2 separate regions of the Homo sapiens genome follow, and region 1 is linked to region 2. A link means that fine-mapping ties the variant in region 2 to the expression of a gene that starts in the linked region. Tissue or cell type: thyroid. Region 2 holds a variant in brackets; the other region holds the start of a gene. All regions are shown on one strand. Distances are between the middles of the regions.

What was found. PIP is the estimated chance that this variant, and not a neighbour inherited with it, causes the effect.
Region 1: AMN starts here. The variant in region 2 is fine-mapped to the expression of AMN in thyroid (GTEx, PIP 0.99).

The regions. Positions count from the first base shown.
Region 1 is chr14:102,918,443-102,926,596 of GRCh38, forward strand. It overlaps AMN (amnion associated transmembrane protein), which reads left to right and starts at 4,221. Exons shown (of 12, transcript NM_030943.4): 1 at 4,221-4,289; 2 at 5,269-5,387; 3 at 5,493-5,537. The coding sequence starts at 4,247. RefSeq lists silencers at 4,445-4,644, 5,808-6,006.
Region 2 is chr14:102,960,292-102,968,487 of GRCh38, forward strand. CDC42BPB (CDC42 binding protein kinase beta) reads right to left here. Exons shown (of 37, transcript NM_006035.4): 15 at 8,181-8,196; 16 at 7,962-8,067; 17 at 6,755-6,879; 18 at 5,991-6,096; 19 at 4,211-4,359; 20 at 2,770-2,864. Among named protein-coding and RNA genes, the nearest start is that of AMN, 42 kb to the left of the region's middle. The variant C/A (reference allele first, on the strand shown) is at 4,888.

The DNA of each region.
Region 1 (8,154 bases), 42 kb before region 2:
ACTCATCTCCCCATCATCAAATCATCCAAACATCATGCACAATCCATTTGCTGTTCATCTTTCTACCTCTCTGCTTCCCAACACCCACAAATCCATCCTCCATTCACTCACCACCCAGCCATTCCAACGTGCATGATGCAGATCCAAGCATGCACTGCAGACCCATTCCCCCAACCCCCATCAATCATCCATCCATCACCTAGCGCACATTCATTCACAATTTATCCACCATGCTCTGTCCACCCACCCATTGATTTATATCCAGTAACTCCTGTACTCTTATCCATCTACCTACTGTCTCTCTACTTACTACTATCCATTCACACATCATCTAAAATTCATTCACCATTATTCATCCACCATCAATCCATCCCTCCACCATTTGGTCTTGTCCACCATCCATCTACATCCAAAATCCACAACTTTTTCTCACCCACCGTGCATTGCAACAACTATCCATACATACACATCTGTTCAACAGCTACGATTTCTCTTTCACCCATCAACCATCCACTATGCAACCATGATTCATTTTGCCACCGTCCGCCCTTTCCCTCGTTCTCCTTTATTCAACTACCATCTACCATCCATCAACCATCCTTCCATAATCACTCTTCTATCCATCCATCCACCAATAACATTCACCATCTGTGAGCTGCCATCCATACACTTACCCATTCACCATCCACAATCAACTATCTACTCTTTTTTTTTTTTTTTTTTTTTTTTTTTTTAATAGAGTCTCACTCTGTCGCCCAGGCTGGAGTGGAGTGGCACAATCTCGGCTCACTGCAACCTCTGCCTCCCAGGTTGAAGCAATTCGGCCCCAGCCTCCCAAGTAGTTGGGATTACAAATGTGCACCATCACATTTGGCTCATTTTTGTATTTTTAGTAGAGACAAGGTTTCACCATGTTGTCCATGCTGGTCTTGAACTCCTGACCTCAAGTGATACTCCATCCTCAGCCTCCCAAAATGCTGGGGTTACAGGCGTGAGCCACCGCGCCCAGCCAACTATCTGCTTTCATCTACCATCCGTCATCTGTCTGTTGATCAACTGTCCTTCTACAAAATACTATATCAACCCACCACCCATCATCCACCATTCATAACGCACCACCCATCTATCCCCATTCACCATCCACCATCACCTTCCATCTACCTACCATCCACCATCCACCATTCATAACACACCACCCATCATCCCCATTCACCATCCACCATCACCTTCCATCCATCTACCATCCATCATCCACCACCCATCTATCCCCATTCACCATCCACCATCACCTTCCATCCATCCACCATCCATCATCCACCATCCATCTATCCCCATTCACCATCCACCATCACCTTCCATCCATCCACCATCCATCATCCAACATCCATCTATCCCCATTCACCATCCACCATCACCTTCCATCCATCCACCATCCATCATCCAACATCCATCTATCCCCATTCACCATCCACCATCACCTTCCATCCATCTCCCATCCATCATCCACCATCCATCTATCCCCATTCACCATCCACCATCACCTTCCATCCATCTACCATCCATCATCCACCATCCATCCCCATTCACCATCCACCATCACCTTCCATCCATCCACCATCCATCATCCAACATCCATCTATCCCCATTCACCATCCACCATCACCTTCCATCCATCCACCATCCATCATCCACCATTCATAACGCACCACCCATCTATCCCAATTCACCATCCACCATCACCTTCCATCCATCTACCACTCATTCATTCACCATTCATTTATCCACCGTCCATTCATGCATACATCCACCATCCATCTATCCACCATTCATCCATCCACCATCCACTCCCACTATCCATCCATCCACCATCTATCCATCCACACATTCACCATCCACCCATCCACAACCTACCATCCATTCATCCACCATTCACTCATCCACCATCCATTCTCCACCATCCATCTACCCATCCATCCCTCTACCCATTCACATATCCACCATCCACTCATCCATCATCCACAATTCACTCATCCAGCGTCCATTCATCCATCCACCCATTCACACATCCACCCATCTACCATCCACCATCCCTTCATCCACCATCCACCCATCATTCACTCACCCACCATCCACCATCCATCCATCCACCCATCTATATGTCCATTCACCCATTCGCCATCCACTCATCCACCACCCACCATTCATCTATCATCCCTCATCCACTGTCTACCATCCACCATTCATCCATCCACCCATTCACCCATCCACCATCCATCCATCCACCATCCACTTATCCACAATCTGCCATCCACCATTCGCCATTCATCCATCCATTCATCCACCACCCATCACCATTCACATCCACCATCGGCCATTCACCATCCACCATCCACCATCCACCTATTCACCATCCACCATTCACTCATTCACCACCCATCCTTCCATCCACCCACCATCCACCACCCACCATCCACCAACCACTATTCATCTTACCATCCACCATCCACCATCTATCATCCACTATCTACCATCTGCCGCCCATCCATCCACTTAATATTCACCATCTACTCATCACCATTCACTTGTCCATTATCCACCACCCACCAACCATCATCCACCTACCATCCATCATCCACCATTTATCCATTATCTACTTATCTACCATCCATTACCCATCCATTTATCATCCTATCCACCATCTACTATCCACCCATTATCCACTATCCACTGTCTATTCACTATCCACCATCTATTCACTATCCACCGTCCATCTCCATCCACAATTCACCATTTATGCAACCATCATCCACCATCTATCCATTTACCATCTATCTATTCACCATCCACCATCCATCCATTCAGCATTCATCACTCACCAAACATCCACCATTTAACACCCACTTTTTTTTTTTTGAGATGGGGTTTCACTCTTGTTGCCCAGGCTGGAGCACAGTGGCGTGATCTCCGATCACCACAACCTCCGCCTTCCAGGTTCAAACGATTCTCCTGCCTTAGCCTCCCAAGTAGCTGGGATTACAGGCATGTGCCACCATGCCTATCTAATTTTGTATTTTTAGTAGAGATGGGGTTTCTCCATGTTGGTCAGGCTGGTCTCGAACTCCCGACCTCAGGTGATCTGCCCGCCTTGGCCTCCCAAAGTGCTGCGGTTACAGGCGTGAGCCACCGTGCCCCGCCAACACCCACTCTTTATGATCTACCTGTCGGCCATGTATCCATTTATGCCATTATCCATCCACCACTCCCTGATTACCATCCATTCCTTTTCCTTTTTTTTTTTTTTTTTTTGAGACGGAGTCTCGCTCTGTCGCTCAGGCTGGAGTGCAGCGCACGATCGTGGCTCACTGCAAGCTCCACCTCCTGGGTTCACGCCGTTCTGCCTCAGCCCCCCAAGTAGCTGGGACTACAGGCGCCTTCTACCATGCCCGGTTAATTTTTTTGTATATTTTTAGTATAGACGGGGTTTCACCGCGTTAGCCAGGATGGTCTTGATCTCCTGACCTCGCGATCCGCCTGCCTCACCCTCCCAAAGTGCTGGGATTACAGGCATGAGCCACCACGCCCGGCCATTCATTCATTTTTCACTCACCATCCTCATCCATCCATTCATCACCCATCCACCCTCTATCACTCACCATCCACCCCGTCAACCATTTACCATTCATCTGCCATGCGTCCATATGCCGTACACCATGCACCATCAATGTTGCTGTCCATCAGCTGTCCCCTACTCACCATCCACTACTCTCCACCATCATCCACAATCCACCCTCCTATACCATCCACATACCATGTTCCATCCAGGATCTTCCTTCTATCATCCAACCACCACCCACAGCCCATGGGACAGGGGCACTGCGTGGAGAAGTGGACACCCAGTTCCAATGGTGAGCAGACTAGCTCAGCCCTAGCAGCACACAGGACAGAGAAAGGGGTGAATTCAAAGGTCGTTTATTCCCCCTCCCGGCAAGACACCCATTTTACAGGGTAGGTCAGTCTCGCCAAGCCCTTCTTCTTTGCCCTTCTTCCTGAGAACCTAAGGTGTTCAGGCCCTGCAGGGGCGGGTAAGGGGAGGCTGAGAAGGTGCCTCCCAGGGGCCTGAAGAGTCGGCCCTGGGCGGGTCTGGAGGTAAATGTGTAACCGACCCTGGTGCCCCCACCCGACCTGCCTGGTCACGTGGGTCCAGTGGGGCAAAGTCTCCTGGTGGGGTGCAAGGAGCCGAGGCGAGATGGGCGTCCTGGGCCGGGTCCTGCTGTGGCTGCAGCTCTGCGGTGAGCCGGGACCACACCGGTGCGGGCCCGGACGGTAGCGGTCTGTCAGGACCCAGGGCCGAGGTCGCTCTAGGCCTGGAGGGTGAAGATCTTCCGAGGAGTGGGCAGGGAGGGCTTTGGAGGGTTGGGGGCGTGAAACTCGGCCCTGCCTCCCTCGTCTGGCGAGTGCGCAGCCCGGAAGTGCGCGGCCAGTGCATCGGGCGGTGCGGGAGAGGAGAGGAGGGGCTCCGGGAACCTCGGCCAGCCCCGGCCTCCGGCGGCTCCTGCCCTCGCGGTTTTTCCGTCTGCGAAATGGGCGCGGTCCCCAGAACCTGCCGAGAGCAGCGAGTGTGCGCCTGCGGGGCTCGGCAGACCGCCTCAGCTTCCCGGTCCCCAAGGGAGCACTGAGCCCTCCTCCGCCTTCACACCAGGCCGGCGCGTGTCCCTGGCGCCCCCTTCCCTAAACCCCTCGCGGCTCCCTCAGGACAACCCCACCCACCACATTCAGGGCCGGCCTGACCTGGTCCTGCCGCCCCCAGCCCCTTCTTACTTCTCATACCGGGTTGCGCTCTGTCGCAGCTCTTCCCGGCCCAGGTAGGACTCCTCCGGGAAGCCTTCCTGATTCCAAGGCCGAGAAGAGGTCTGTGCTGCCCCATCCTCCTCCATGCCCCAGTTGTCACTGTCCTTAACAACGCTGTCCTCTGCTCCAGCGCCAGGCAAACTGGGGGCAGTGCCGGGAGGCTATCTAGGCAGGCGTCCTGCAGGGCGCGTTTGAGCGGGCTCTGCAGGTATCAGTAGAAGTCCGTTGGAGAGCGCCCGGGCAGGGCGCCCACAGTCTGGCCGGGAGGGACCAGGGTCTGGGTCCGGGCCCCCGGGGATGGGGTTCCTATGCGTCCCGGGTGATCCGCGCGGACCTTCCGCACTTCTCTGGGTGGGTGGCCTTCCCTGAGAAGGGAGCATCCCGGAGAGCATCCCGGGCACTCAGTCGCCTCCTCCCCAGCACTGACCCAGGCGGTCTCCAAACTCTGGGTCCCCAACACGGACTTCGACGTCGCAGCCAACTGGAGCCAGAACCGGACCCCGTGCGCCGGCGGCGCCGTTGAGTTCCCGGCGGACAAGGTGCCTGGGAGCGCCGGCGGGGTCGGTGATGGGCCTGGACCCCTGAGACCGTGTGGCCCCGGTGGGGGTTGCTCCCGGCTCGGCTGAGGCAGCTTCTTCCTGCAGATGGTGTCAGTCCTGGTGCAAGAAGGTCACGCCGTCTCAGACATGGTAAGGCCGGGCTGCTACTGCCACTGGGCTGGGGGTTCACAGAGTCTCTGAAGCGCCTTCAGGGACTGCTGTGCCTTGAGGGCGGACCCCACCGGCATGGAGGCACTGCAGGACTGGGACTTTGGCCTCTGGAGAATATTCTAGGAGGCAGGGAGTGGGGGGGAACCTAGGGGAGCTTGGTCCCATGGTCCCAGCCAGGCTGTGTCCTGGGAGGGATGGGAGGCACCCCTGTCCCCACAGCCCTTGTGATGCCCAGCAGTGGGTGGTCTTCCCAGGAAGCGCCTGCTCCATGCCCTTCCCCCAAAGCCTTGCCTTGTCCTGGTGCCTAAAGCTCCATCTTTAGAACACTAGGGAAAGTGTCCCCAACACCCCCCCCTCTACCCACCATCCGGGTCCCTGGCCTGTTAGGAAGTGGCCGCCCAGGAAGAGGCGAGCCCACTCCTGCCTGGCTCTGCCTCCCTTCAGATCAGATCAGATTCTCCTAGGGACCCCTATTGTCACTGCGCCAGCGAGGGGCCTGGGTGGGTGTGCACTCCTTAAGTGGCTGACATCTGAGATGGGACAGCTTAATCCTGAAACCTTCCCCACTCCCATCAGTCCATGGAAGAACTGTCTTCCACAAAACTGGTCCCTGGTGCCAAAAAGGTTGGGGACTGCTGCCCTAGGGGACCTTTTTCTCAAACTGCTTCACACAACACTCCAAGAACATGATGGGAACTGGGAGGAAAGCGGGTTCCATGAGTAGGTAAGTTTGGGAAATGCTGCAGCCTGCACTTTCCTGGAGCTTCATCACGTATTAAAGGCTCTGATAAGGCCCCAGAGAAAGAAGCTAATTTCCTTGTTTAAGGTGGAGTTCCGCAAGCTACAGGCCAAATGCAGCCCCTACGGGTGGAGCAAGGAACGGTTTTTACACTTTGTAATCGTTGGGGAAAAAAAGAACAATCTTTTGTGGCACTTGAAAAATATATGACATTCACACCTCAGCGACAGTAAATACAGCTTCACTGGCACACAGCCTGCCCGCTTGGTTGAGTATCCTCGGTGGCCACTGTCCCATTGCATCGGCAGCCCACCAGCTTCCAGGGTGACTGTGGGGCCTGCAGGCCAAGCCTCTGGGCAAAAGCTTCCTTCCAGCCCCTTCACAGCCACTCCTGGGCTGCGTCCTCATCCTGTCACCTGCACACCTGCCAGCTCAGTCACTCCTGAGTGAGGGTCACTGGTGAGCTGGGTCGGGGTGTCGGCTCCAGATGTGGGGTCCAGGCCTGGGGCCCCCGCGTGTGCGGGTGGGGAGGATGGCTCAATGGGCTTGGCCTGGCCCATTCCTGCCCCATGCGGGGTCAGGGACCCTGGGCCTCATTTCCACCCCAGGGCCGCTTGGTTCCTTCCTTCAGGTTTTCCAAAGCTGCCTTAACCCAAAAGCTGCCACACACTGGGGAGGGCACCCACAGCAAGATGGCGACGCTCCCACCCGGGAAACAGGAGGAGGGCAGGGAGAGGGAGGCGGTTGCCCCTTGTGGCCCGGCCCCCAGAACCCACGCATAACCTTGGCAACCAGGCAGCCCGAGTGAGGGGGGCACTGGGAGCTGATGGGGGACCTGTGGGCAGAGGAGTCAGGCTGGGCTGGGGGTTCCAGGGCATGGATTTCCCCCTACTCCCCTCCCCTGCCGGCCTCCTTACTTTCATGATCTCCTTTGGAAGCACTTGGGCTCTGAAAGGAGGCAATACTCCATTCATTCATCTATTCAATAATTCATTCATTGATCATCCATTGGCCGGTGGGAACAGCGCAGGGGCAGGGGACAGTGGCCCCAGGGTCCCAGCCTGCAGAGGCCGAATTCACCCAGAGCCGCCCAAGCACCCCCATCCCCTGCCCGCGTCGGCTATGTTGCCCTCCACACCCCTGGCTCCCAGCTTCATCCATCTGCCTAGATGAGGCCCGAGTAACAGGCCGTGCACATCAGTGCCTTACTTTGTAATTCTGTGGTTGGGAGCGTCCCTCCCTGCGATTTTCCTTTTCCTTGCCCTTCCTCCCATTTCTACCTTTTGCCTGCTTTCTTGTTGGGGGAGTCTCCTGTCTTTCACCCATCCCCCTGCCTTGGCTGGAGGCTTTGCAAGTCTGCTCACTGTGGACTTGCCTGCAGTGTCCTGTGCTGAACAGAAACCTTCATTTTAATCGACCTAATGCAAAACGCCTTACCTTAGAACTGTGTTTTTTCTGTTTCGTTTGAGAATCGCGTCTGCTCCTCAGTCACAATGGTAATGGACTGTGTACCTATGGGGCACGTGCACCAGCGAGGGCTCCTGCTGTGTTTCTCTCCTTAGAGTGAACCCAGCTTCCAGCATCCTCCGCCTTGCCCTTTTGTTCTAGCACTGCTGGAATCCGTCGTGTGCCTGGGTGTTGTGGGTCTCTCTGAGCCTTGTCTTCAAGTCCACAGGCCGCTTTGCCGACCCTACACTATCCACACAGTGGCTCTGCAGGATGGCTTAATATCCATCCCCTTCACTCCTGCTCCAAGGTTCTTTGTGGATCTCATTGTTGCAGATAAATTGTAGAATAGGTTTGCCAGGTAACAACTACCACCACCACCACCAAAAAAACCCTGGATTTTTTTTTTTT
Region 2 (8,196 bases):
GATATTAAAGCAGATTCACTAAGGCCTCTACAATAAGAATCATGGCCAGGCACAGTGGTTCACACCTGTCATCCCAGCACTTTGGGAGGCCAAGGTCGGAGGACTGCTTGAGGCCATGAGTTTGAGACCAGCCTGGGCAACACAGAGAGACCCCATCTCCATAAAAATTAAATAAATAAAATTAGCTGTGCATGGTGGCATGTGCCTGTGGTCCTAGCTACTTGGGAGACAGAGACAGGAGGATCACTTGAGCTGGGGAGATTGAGGCTGCACGTGCCACTGCATTCCTGCCTGGGTGACAGAGTGAGACCCTGTCACACACACAAAAAAACACATATCAAAAAACAAGAATCAAGTGGTTCTTCCCCATGAACAATGGAACAGGGGAGAAGATCCAGAAACAGACCCAAGCCCATGGTGATCCTGTACATGACAACAGTCATACATAAAACCAGCAGGAAAAATAGCTTAATAACTGGTATTGGACAACCAGCTAGCCATTAGCAAAAGATAAAACTGGATACACTCCTCGAACCGTATGTCAGAGCAAATTTCAAATGGATCAGTATTCTAATTTAAAAAATGAGGCTGGGCACGGTGGCTCACGCCTGTAATCCTAGCACTTTGGGAGACACGGCAGTCAGATTGCTTGAGTCCAGGAGTTCAAGACCAGCCTGGGAAATACGGCACAACCCCATCTCTAAAAATAAATAAATAAATAAATAAATAGCCAGGTGTGGTGGCACGTGCCTGTAGTCCCAGCTACTCAGGGGGCTGAGGTGGGAGGATCACTTGAGCCCAGAAAGTTGAGGCTGCAGTGAACCCTGATCGTGCTACTGCACTCCAGCCTGGGCAACAGAGCAAGACCCTGAATCAATCAATCAATCAATCAATCAATCAATCAATCAATCATGAAGCCACACAAGTATGAGAAGCATGAGGGAATCCCTCCAACAACTGGGAGTTAGGTGTATTTTCCTATTTATGACTCAAAAAAGGAAGAAGACTGAAAACTTGACACACAAAAAATTTTGAAAACCACCTTTTTTTTTTTTTCTTGACAGACGGAATCTGGCTCTGTCACCCAGGCTGGAGTGCAGTGGCGAGATCTCAGCTCACTGCAACCTCTGCCTCCCAGGTTCAAGCGATTCTCCTGCCTCAGCCTCCTGAGTAGCTGGGACTATAGGCATGCCCCACCACGCCCAGCTAATTTTTGTATTTTTAGTAGAGATGGCAAAACCCCCCCCACTTTTTTTTAAGACAGCGTTTTGCTCTTGTTGCCCAAGCTGGAGTGCAATGGTGCAATCTCGGCTCACCGCAACCTCTGCCTCCCGGGTTGAGGTTCAAGTTCAAACAATACTCCTGCCTCAGCCTCCTGAGTAGCTGGGATTACAGGCATGCACCACCACGCCCAGCTAATTTTGTATTTTTACAAGAGATGGGGTTTCTCCATGTTGGTCAGGCTGGTCTCGAACTCCAGACCTCAGGTGATCCGCCCACCTCAGCCTCCCGAAGTGTTGGGATTACAGGCGTGAGCCACCGCACCGGCTGCAAAACCACTTTTATTTGGCAAAAAAATAAATAAATGATAAGCAAAGACAAACTAGGAAAAATACTTGCAACTTACATCACAAACAAAAGGCACTAATCCCCAAAATGCAAAAGGCTTTTAGAAATCCGCAAGACTAACAACCTGAATTTTTAAAAGCGGGCAAACAATAAAAACATATAATGCACAAAATACAAAAGTCCCTCAAACATATAAAAAGATGCTCAATCTTACTTATGAGAAATATGCAAGTTAAACCTCTACGGAGATGCTATTTCTCACCTATTCAGAGCGGCAAAAATCCAAAAGTCTGAAATCCTACTTTGTGGGTAGGCTGTGGGGCAGAAACCCCTCATGCAAAGTGGGAGGAACGTCACTGCACAGCCTCTGGAGGCCTGTCCGTCAGCATGCAGCAAGAGTGTACAGGCATGTTTGCCCTTTGCCCTGGCAATCCCACTTCTAGAACTCTATCCCGAAATACACCGACAAAAACAGGAAATGTTCTATCCATACAGCCACTCCTGGCAGCACTTTCTGTGACAGCAAATGCCAGGGAATAAACCATCCCAGTGGCTGGCCAGCCCACGGCAGCGCACAGTGCAGCTGCAGAGGAGGCCGGGGTGGCCCCTCCAGCACAAAATGATGCCTTTTGTGTTATCAGGGGATACAAATGTGTGCCTAGATTTGTGTGGATTTGCCATATGCTTTCAAGATGAAAGGAAGGATAGGCTGGGCACGGTGGCTCACACCTGTAATTCCAGCACTTTGGGAGGCTGAGGTGGGTGGATTGCCTGAGGTCAGGAGTTGCAGACCAGCCTGGCCAACGTGGCAAAACCCCATCTCTACTAAAAATACAAAAATTAGCCAGGGGTGGTGGTGGTGTGCACCTGCAATCCCAGCTACTTGCGAGGCTGAGGCGGGAGAATCCTTGAACCCAGGATGCAGAGGTTGCAGTGAGCCGAGATTGTGCCATTGCACTCCAGCCTGGGTGACACAGCGAGACTGTCTCAAAAAAAAAGGAAGGATAAACCAAAAACAATGGCTACCTTTGGGGAAAATATATTTGAAGATGTTGTTTGAAAATGCTGATTTTGGAAAATACTGAATTTGGAATTCTGTAGGTGCTTCTAAAGTAACTATTAAGTCGAAAAGAAAATAAAAACATTCATTTGAAAAATACTTATATTCAAATAATGCAGAATCGCACAACATTAATTTACCAGTATCTGCTCTGAATTTTTCTTCCATCTTTTTCTTCAAAATTTCCATTTCTTCTAATAATTCTCTGTTTTTGGCTTCGGAATCCTTTAGTTTGCTAAAATAAAAAATAAATGGCTTTAAGTGCACTGAGAAGAGGTTGTCTGTGAGCTGGTATGGGGCAGGTCAGGATGAGAGAGCCGGGATTTCTCCCCAGCACTCAGGACTGTCCAGAACACGGTAGCTCATGCTGGGCCTTTCTACTGCAAACACCATGAACAGTACGAATATTTCAAATATAAACATTCAAACAGGAATTTAAAAAGTCATGGCTTAGGAAGGCGTGTCTCATGAAGGCCTAATGGAGCTCTTGACCTTCCTAATCTTGTTCCCAGGCGAGTCCTCTGTTCTTCAGGGACACAGGGCCCAGGCCGCTCAGCCGTCAGCCCCATCAATATCTTTCCCATAACTGGCAAGATGGTGGCTGCACCAAGAAGCACCAGCACCACCCGCACGGGTAGCCTTGCAATTCCAGCAACTTCGTGCAGGGGACAGAGGAAGTCAGGCTGCCACGGGGAACACCTGGCCGGGAGGGATGCAGTTTGTGGGGGCTGGTCCACTCATCAGTGGGGTGACAGTGGGCAAATCACCTGCGGAGTGTGTGTAAGTGGGAGTAACAAGACTGCCTACCCTGTTGGGCTGTGGGAGGGTCACAGGATTTAACAACAGAACAGTCTTACAGCAATTCCCAGTATAAAGAAAGTCAATTTAACTGAAACCTATTACCATTAATTTTTTAGCCCCAAACTAACAGGATTTGGGACTTGGTAATTCTGTTAGAGACACTGTCCCTTCCAGGTCCTCGCCTGCCTCATGGCACAGCAGAGCTGGCCTGGTTTTTATGAAACTGACGTTCATTATCGTATCCTCGTAAAACCAGATCTGCAAAGAGGAGACTCTCAGCAAATACTGACTGAATCACTGCTGTGTGAAAATGGCGTTCTCGTTACTGCTTGGAGTTAGGGAAAAATTTCAAGTGAGAATGCCATCTTCAACCTCTGTTTTAAAATATTCACGTTAGCTTGAAAGGAACAATCTTGAATTAGTGAATGGAGCGGCACGGAGGTGACTAAGCAGTGAGAGGGGCTCCTGTCAGACAGCGGTGTGAGTCTCGCTACCCAGCGTGGGGGCACAAGCACCCGCTGCCGTCAAAACACGGCTCGCACCGCACCACACCCCCCCGCGGCAGGCAAGGCCCTGCACCCTCGCGGCCACCTCAGTGCCAGAACGGCCTGCTATTCGGGGCTCCTGCAGGTGAACCCGACGTGCTGCCTCCTAAGGCTCCAGCAAACGCCGTGGCCCCGATTTTCCAGGCGAGGAGCATCGGAGCCCGTGAGGCTCAGGGCGGGCTCGAGGCCACACAGCCACTGCTCCTACCTGGAGTCAGACCCTGGCACCAAGTACCTTTCCAAGGTGAGGTTGGCGTCCTTGACCTTCCTGAGCTCCTCCTGGACAAGCTGCTTGGCCCGGATCTCCGCCTCCAGGGCCGACTGCAGCTCCAGCCGCGCGGACATGTCCAGCTTCTGGCTGCGGCGCACCTTCCACAGCGGGTCCTTGAGACACGGTCATGGCGTTAAAAATGCATTTTCAGTTATCCGCTTGTTAAACTAATGTTAACAAATAAGTTATCTTTGTCTAACCTTAAGCCATTACGGTCTCATTTAGATATTAACTCTAAATTATGGAGGTGCCTCAGGAGTTTTAGTTTTGATATTTTATGACTTTTTTTACTCTTCCTCAGAAATCTTCTAAAAAATAACTAAATAATTTACTTTATCTTTTAGAAGAATAAAAGTGATTCTGTAGTGCAATTTCTTTTCTTTTCTTTTCTTTTTTTTTTTGTTTGAGATGTAGTTTCGCTCTTGTTGCCTAGGCTGGAGTGCAATGGCGTGATCTCAGCTTACCGCGACCTCCGCCTCTTGGGTTCAAGCGATTTTCCTGTCTCAGCCTCTCCAGTAGCCAGTAGCTGGGATTACAGGTGCCGCACCACCATGCCTGGCTAATTTTTGTATTTTTAGTAGAGACAGGGTTTCACCACGTTGGCCAGGCTAGTCTCCAACTCCTGCTCTCGTGATCCACCC[C/A]CCTTGGCCTCCCAAAGTGCTGGGATTACAGGCATGAGCCGCTGCGCCTGGCCTCTGTAATGCAATTTCTATATGGGTCCACTGGACCCTGGACCCTTTTACAAACCTAAGGTACATTATAGGGTTCGGTTATCTTTTTCTCATAACTTGAAACGTTTTGCTATTTCACCATCCTGGGAATTATGTCATTACTCATTCCTACCTGTGATTAAAAAAAAAAAAAAAAAAAAAAGACTAAAATAATAAGGGAAGAATGACAGAGTGACCTAGGATGAAGCAACAGTGGAATAAGCCAGTTCACTAACATCATCCTCCTGTTTTCTTACTGAGTTGCCCAATGTATGACATCAACTTTCGAGAGGTATCAAAGAAGTCCAGAGATGCCATCTTGCTGTTTTTTCTTTTTTAAAACAAACTGAAAACCTTTCATTGAACACAATTGAGAATGCTTCATTTTCCATCTATAACAGTAAAGAGAAGAAAATGGACAGAGGAAGGCCAGGTGTGGGGGCTCATGCCTGTAATCCCAGCACTTTGGGAGGCCGAAGCGGGCAGATCACCTGAGGTCAGGGGTTTGAGACCAGCCTGGCCAACATGGTGGAAACCCGTCTCTACTAAAATACAAAAATGAGCCAGGTGTAGCGGCACACGCCTGTAATCCCAGCTACTCGGGGGGGCTGAGGCAGGAGAATCACTTGAAGCCGGGAGGCGGAGGTTGCAGTAAGCCGAGATCACGCCACTGCACTCTAGCCTGGGCAACAGAGTGAGACTGTCGCGGGAGGAAAAAAATAAAATACACACATCACTAAATGAACCAATGAAATTAATAAAAGCAAGCTCTCTGAGGGCAGAATCCAGTCTTAACTTGACACCACGGAGCTCAGTGCTCAGTAATTATTTGCTAAACGAATGAATGCTGTCGAGAGAAGCCATGATGATCTGAGAGCTGGCAAATGTTGGCGTTCCTTAAATTGGGGAACTGGTTACACAGAAGTCTCTTGCATCACTGTAATTCCCTAAATAGTACTTATATGTCACATTTATACTTAAAACCATTAGCGAATTATTCAGTAATAGAAATGCAGGCATTACACAAAACCTACCAGTGTTCTTGACCCCAGACTAGAACTCCTCAAAGCCTCGAGCTCTTCGGTCATCTTGGAAGCAAGAGCTTGAAGGTAACCCCGGGCATCTTTCTCGTCACTGACCCTGGAGGAGGGAACAGATGTTCTATCTCACGAAGCATGGCTATCAGGGAGAAGCCAAACAAGAAGGGGACGTTCCCGCCTTCCTCGGCACACAGTGACACAGTGTCACGTCAGCTAGAGTGCCCGCAGTGTACCCGTTGTATACACGGGATCTCATTGATGGATGCGTCGTTACATTGCACATGACTGCAGTTTAAAAAGACACCAAACTTCCAAGACTCAAGAATGAAAAAATTCTATTACTCCATAAATATATATACCTACTACGCACCCACAAAAATTAAAAATAAAAACTCTTTTTTTAATTACAACTTCACACCTTAGGAGCGGAGGGCCAGGTCCCAGCTCGCTCCAAGTCTCCCTGCTGCTTCTGCAGCCGCTTTGGGAGGGCTCTGCCTCCCCTGTCTCTGAGAACGCAAGGGGTGTGAACGGTTTGCCCCAAGTCCTTCAGTGGGTTGGTGGGGGCGTATCTCCACCTCTATTCCAACAGAACCACTGCCCCAGACATGAGAAGTTCTGGGGAACAGCAGTGAGACCTGCACCCCAGCCTGAGAGGCACGGCCTGGCGTGGAGCACAGGATCAGGCAGAAGAGGCGGGGCAGACCCCATGGACTGAGCAGGGAGCGGATTCACGGCCGCTAATGGGGCCGCGCACGTACCACTGAATGATTTCCGCAATCTGAGCTTCCCAGTGGGCCACTGACTCCTTCTTGGCTGCCAGATCCTGCAGCTCATCCTCCAGCTGTCTATTTTGAGCTGTGAGTTTATCCACAAAGGAACAGAGCTGAAATGAAACAATTTCACCACAGAACTTGTTAATCGGGCATCCTTTAAGTATGCTGGATTTAACACTGGAAGTTCTTTTGAAGACTCTGAAAGTTTTCTTTAATCGTCATGAGATTTTTCCAAACTAAGTTCATGATATGGATTTTTTTCACTGTATCTAGCTTAAGTCACATTTCAATTCAAATCTAAACCTAAACTGATGGAGCTGGAGCTAGTGACTTCAGGCAATTGGCATCTTTTCGCTGAATACAAACATCCTATTTAAAAGACCAAACACATGACTCCATTCAAAAATTAAAACAGTCACGTGTAGTGAAACAGCAAGAACACGGTCTGAGAAACGTGTCCTTGCACACACAGCGTGAATGCACTCACGCAAGCCTAGACGGTGCGGCTGCCGCACACCAGGCCCTGTGGTACAGCCTGTCAATTCCAGGCCCCAAGCCTGCATACCATGTTGCTGTGCGGGACGCTGCCGGCGGCTGTAGCACAATGCTAAGTATCTGTGTATCTCAACACAGAAGAGGTAGAGTAAAGTACAGTATTATGATCGTACGGGACGCCTGTTGTACACACAGTCTATCATTGATGGAAGCATCGTTATATGGCACATTACTGCACTGTAAAAAGACACCAAACTTCGGCCGGCGCAGTGGCTCATGCCTGTAATCCCAGCACTTTGGGAGGCTGAGGTGGGTGGATCATGAGGTCAGGAGATTGAGACCATCCTGGCTAACACGGTGAAAACCCGTCTCTACTAAAAATACAAAAACTTAGCCAGGCGTGGTGGCAGACGCCTGTAGTCCCAGCCACTTGGGAGGCTGAGGTGGGAGAATGGCATGAACCTGGGAGGCAGAGGTTGCAGTGAGCCAAGATCGCGTCACTGCACTCCAGCCTGAGCGACAGAGCGAGACTCCATCTCAAAAAAAAAAAACCAAACTTCCAAGACTCAAGAATGACGACATTCTACTCCCCCATAAATATATATACCTACTATGTACCCACACAAATTAAAAATAATTTTTTTTTAAATTACAACTTCCACACAAAGTGCTAACTCAGGTACTTTGAATTAATTACCTTTTCATTTTCAGCAGTTAGCTTCTTGTTTTCATCAAACAGCATCGCTCTTTCTCGTTCGTATTTATCTTTTATTGTACCTACTGCCTCCTCCATCTCGTTATGCCTGCCAAGGTGAGCGAGAAACAGTTTTAAAAGCTCGTAACTTCACTGATATTCGTATCTATGGCGTGGGTATCAGCTTGCATCTTCTGAACTGAGAAGCTCATGAAAACCTACCGTTCTCGCTTTGACT